2 separate regions of the Homo sapiens genome follow, and region 2 is linked to region 1. Evidence: fine-mapped expression QTL. Tissue or cell type: testis. Region 1 holds a variant in brackets; the other region holds the start of a gene. All regions are shown on one strand. Distances are from middle to middle.

Region 1 (2,500 bases):
CACGCCTGTAATCCCAGCTACTCAGGAGGCTGAAGCAGGAGAATCACTTGAACCTGGGAGGCAGAGGTTGCAGTGAGCCGAGATCATGCCACTGCACTCCAGCCTGGGCAACAGAGCGAGACTCCGTCTCAAAAAATAAATAAATAAAGAAAAAGGAATTTAAGGCTAACACCAATTAGTTAGAAAATTATTCTCATGAAATGCTTCTTTTCACATATCTAAACAGGGAAGCTTCCATACTATAGCTGTAGTCTGGAAGATACAGCTAGATTCAGAATGATGTCCTGAAGTCTGAATAGTTTTGAATCTTATTTTTAGTAAGCAGTTCCTTTTTCCTGCACTAGCTGCTCTGCTGATACTCTAATGAAAACTGGCTGAAACTACTGGAACCATGGCATTTGGATTAAAAAACTAAGGCTGCCAAAGCAGAGATAGCACCCAAGAGAAACAGAAAATTATTGGGACAGGCAGAGACCCTGACATTCATCAATACTTACTCAGAAATATTTTGGCTAAGTTTCCAGAAGGACCCATCCCAGAAGACCTGTAGGTGTTCCTTGAACAATAGTAAATGTGCTAAATCTGCTATACCAAACAGGTCTACCTGAAATCACAAAAAGCACCATCAGCTAAAATAATTCTCTGCCTCTACCATGGCAGCTTATTTCGGTAGGAAGTTGAAAGGTATTACAGTGCTTAACTAAGTTTATTTTATGACATACATTTTAGTAGACTGTTCCTCACCCTTACAGTAAAGGGAGAAGCTCTCCAAAGAAGTGATCAATAGAGCCAATTCTAGGAATTATCCTTAAGAACAAAAGATGAAATATTTGGACTATCACATTCAAATTTGTAGACCTACTGAGTTTGCATGAACTCCAGCTGTGATCTAAATGGGGTCCACATGATTAGTTCAGGTTTGTGCTACATATTCAATCAGCAAATGTCTTATGTCTAAAGCTGAGTTAGAAGGAATTTCTGCATATAATGCCACCATACAAAAGACTTTACATTTGTGCTAATGTTCTTTTTATATACATTACTTCATTTACTCCTCATAACAATTCTGATAAACACATAGCAGAGACTGTTATCCCTATTTTACAGAGAAGATCACAGAAAATGACTTATAAAAGATTACATGGGTGGTAGGCAGTAGGAGTGGCCCTGGCACTCGGTTACAGAGTTAGTCATGTGTTTGCAC[A/G]TGTATGTGTATATTCTTCAATGCTGTAACACAAAAATGTTACATTTTACTTGACTTGGTGATATTTGAAAACTAGGTCATCTATTCTAGGAGTCGGTATCAGTAAACAGTAGCTTTTATAGCTTATCTAGATAATAAAGAGATTAAGAAACCCTCTCCATATTTGCTCAGGCTTGTTTTACACTTACCTGGTAGGGAGAAGAACAGTTAGCCAGGATCTTTTGTCCTTCCAGGATCTGTACAGTCCGAAAGCCGCTGAGGGTAAAAACATCCAGCTGCACCCTAAGGTCAACACTGTAGGAAAAGTCCACTATCTTCAAAGCTTGATTGTTCTTGTTACAATCATAGGGATCGTGGATTCTGAGCCCAGATTTAAGAGAAGGAGATAATAAAAATAGGCCATGAAAGAAGCTGCATAGCTGGTCTTTAAAAAAAAAAGGTACCTTGGGTACATCTTAGCTATGCCAACAACTCCCTCCAGTGGTTAATTTTGAAAATGCACCTGTAAGACAGAGCAGTGGCAGTGTCCACCCAATGCGGAAGGAATGTCACCACTTTGGTGACACAAAGTATATTTCAATCACGGTGCATGGCCACCATTAAACATTTATCAAGCTTCCATATTATATAAAGTAAGTATGGAAGCAGAGCACAGGCTTCTTCCCTGTACTGTACACATTAACACATACAATTGCAATGATTTATACACTGACAGGAATTATGATGGAGGAAATTAAAATTTTATAGGTGTCATAGCCTTTCTTGTTTACTATTCCAGATAGGCTTTCCAAGTATTGTTTAGATTCTTCCTTCCAGAGTTTAATGGAAAACAATGCAAGTCTGTTTTATAAAGTCCTATCTGTATTGTAAAATTTCTTGTAAAACACCATATTTTATCTTACTCTTACTTGTAATTCCAGTTATTTACTAAAAAAATCTTTATAATACTAATTAATTATCAATTAATTTTGTTTTCCTTGGGTTTATCTATCCTATGCAATAATGCTATTCTCCAAGGGGACATAGGAACTGTTTATAAATGAAAAGAGTGGGTTTTCATGTGTTCCTTTTGTCTGTTTTTCTCAATTAATTCCCTCAAACTCCTGATATTGGTGCAATATTCCTAAATACAGTCTTTAACTACTCCAATTACATACCTCCACGGCACAGAATGATCTATGTATTTTACTTTAAAATTGATAATTGCTCTCATTTTTCCTTGGCACAAGAGCCAACCTTTTTTGGCCACCATAAAACTATACTATAATTAAAAAAAAAAAAAAATATATATATATA
Region 2 (2,618 bases), 21 kb before region 1:
GACGGCTTCCTACCTGGGCATCTTGCTGTGTCTCTGTCCTGTGCACCCAGACAGGGCCTGGGCCTGCCGGGGCTGGCAGCTGCTCCTCACCCTGCTCAGGCCGTGTGTCTGGCGTCCCCTCTCCCTGACGCCCATCTCAGGGCCTGCGCCCACCCAGCATCAGTTAGGATAAACTCCTGTCAAGCCCCCAGCCAGCTCTCTGCTGGACCCAGCTGCTGTCCCCAGCAGGGGGACGGCACACACACTGGCTTACACACTCTCGCACTCACACACACGTGGGTCCACACCCAACACAGAGCCACCTACCTGCCCAGGCCAGCCTAAGCCAATCCAGCCTCGCTCTCCAAATGCCACTCCGACCCCAGAAGCCACTCCTTTACCGAAACATCCCCGTGGGAGATGAGTTCAGAGCCAGCCCGGGAGGACTCCAGTCAGCTCGGACAAGACTGCCCTTCTGTCCCAACACCTCCAGAGGACACACACAGGCAGCCTGACCACCATATCTGCTATTGCACTCTGCCTGCTGCCACAGCCCCCCGGGCACTTCTGGCCCCCACAGCGTCTTCCATATCTTTAGGGGGTGGCAGCAGACTCACAGCAAGTCCCATCTTCCTGGAGCCCAAGGTAGGGAGGGGAGAGCTAGAAGGGGCGGGACTCAGGTGCAGCTCCAAGTTTCCAGCTCCCAAAATAATCAGATGCAAAGGAGAAGCAAGAACAGCTCGAGGCGGGCGGTGACTCAGTGCTAGTGGGCCGGCTTAGTCACCTGGATGGCTGCTGGCGGCTCCTGGCACATCAGGACGGGAGCAGCGCCCTCCCCCACCTGCCTGGACCGTGGCTGTCTCCAGAGTGTGGCCGCCGAGCCCCGCGCCCAGGGCTGCCTGGCAGGCGAGGCCGCTCCACCCCGCTCCCGCCCATCAGGGCCCAGCGGCCCCGGCTGCGGCGCGCCCCTCCTCCACCGCGCGCCCCGGCTCACTTTGGGATTTCTCCATTAAATCCTCAGGCATCGACCTGCTCGTTTGGGGCGCCGAGCTGCTCCAACGTTGCTTGGCAATTTTGATATCGTCGGGGGTTGCCATGGGGAGGAAGGTGATGTCATTGACACAAAAAACCCACTGAATTTACAAATCAGCTGGGGCTGGAGCTATTTATAAAAACACGTTTTTATCTGCCTTTCTTTGCTGAAGGGGAGGAGGAGGAAGGGCTGCCTGCCGGGCTCAGGGTGAGCCTCCCTGCTGTCCTTCCTACCCTTGCCCTAGAGAAGCCAGACCTCCTTGGCTCACCCCCACCCCCACCCCCCAGAACTTGGAGCTGCGCATTCAGATCTGGCAGGTGCTGGTCTCAGCTGGTTTTGCTTCGAAGGCTGAGAGTGGCACATGGGATGTAAGGCAGGGTGGGTGCTGGCTTCCTGGGCTGGCAGGGACCAGAAACCAGTTACTCAACCGGGTCCCTTTATTTCATTGCCCCTGGTCAGAAACAGAGGCATTTGCTGGTGAGGCAGCTTGAGCTCCTTGATGTGCCCCCCTGCCAGCTCCCCGGAGCGCCAGGTGGAGCCCAGCCTTCCACAGTGCCCTCCCCATCCCTAGCCTCAGTGTCTCCTCCACTGGCTTCTTTTCTTCTCCTAGTGTCCAATCGTGGGCTGCCCAAGCTCCAGGCTTGGTCCCCTGCTCATCTCTCCCCACACTCAGCCACCACTCCATCAAAACACCTTTTTTCTGTGGCTTTGACCATCACCTGGGCAAATGCTTGCCCGAAAACCCATTTTGTGCCTGCCCCACTTCAGGCGCCACCTCTGATGGCCCAGCTCCCACTGCCAGGACCCACTAGCTATTGACAGCCAGAGGGAAGCCTGGGAGTTCTTGCCTCTTCCCGTCCCCCAGTCCCTTATATCCAAGGTGGCACTTGGCTCTACATTTTATTTTTGAAAACTTTCTAACTTTCTTCTGTAGCGAAGCCATGTGGTGTTTGGTTAAAAGTCCAGGCTGTGAGTCTTCAGTCTTCCGCATCTCAGCTCCACTGTTCATCAGTTGAGTGACCTTTGGCATGTTATTGAACCAATTGAACTTCAATTTCCTCATCCATAAAATGGGGATGATTTCACCTGCCTCACAGGGCTGTGGAAATTAAAGGAATAAAGTTTCTGGCACAGAGACTGCTCATCTTGATCCCAATAAACATTAGTTTTTATCCACCCCTCCACTGATGGCAGATTAATCTTCCCAAATCATGACCCTAGGCACCTTCTGTGCAAAGGTCTCAAGCTGCATGCGTAGACATTTTGATTGAACGCAGTGTTAGATGTCATGGCATTAAACATAAGAATTTCAATTTGTGGCCAGGCACAGTGGCTCACGCCTGTAATCCCAGCACTTTGAGAGGCTGAGGCGGGTGGACCATGAGGTCAAGAGATTGAGACCAGCCTGGCCAACATGGTGAAACCTCATTCCACTAAAAATACAAAAATTAGCTGGGCGTGGTGGCACATGCCTGTAATCCCAGCTACTTGGGAGGCTGAGGCAGGAGAATTGCTTGAACCCGGGAGGCGGAGGTTGCAGTGAGCCAAGATTGTGCCACTGCACTTCAGCCTGCGCGACAGAGCGAGACTCTGTCTCAAAAGAAAA

The links. PIP is the estimated chance that this variant, and not a neighbour inherited with it, causes the effect.
Region 2: PAK6 starts here. The variant in region 1 is fine-mapped to the expression of PAK6 in testis (GTEx, PIP above 0.99).

What each region holds. Positions count from the first base shown.
Region 1 is chr15:40,216,560-40,219,059 of GRCh38, reverse strand. It overlaps BUB1B (BUB1 mitotic checkpoint serine/threonine kinase B), which reads right to left. Exons shown (of 23, transcript NM_001211.6): 21 at 1,393-1,564; 22 at 498-604. BUB1B-PAK6 (BUB1B-PAK6 readthrough) reads right to left here and starts at 1,632. Exons shown (of 10, transcript NM_001128629.3): 1 at 1,393-1,632. All of the region lies in intron 1 of LOC107984763 (a long non-coding RNA gene), which reads left to right. The variant A/G (reference allele first, on the strand shown) is at 1,205.
Region 2 is chr15:40,237,491-40,240,108 of GRCh38, reverse strand. PAK6 (p21 (RAC1) activated kinase 6) reads right to left here and starts at 1,046. Exons shown (of 11, transcript NM_001395430.1): 1 at 307-1,046. The region is part of intron 1 of BUB1B-PAK6 (BUB1B-PAK6 readthrough); the gene reads right to left. It overlaps LOC107984763 (a long non-coding RNA gene), which reads left to right and starts at 408. Exons shown (of 3, transcript XR_001751506.2): 1 at 408-624.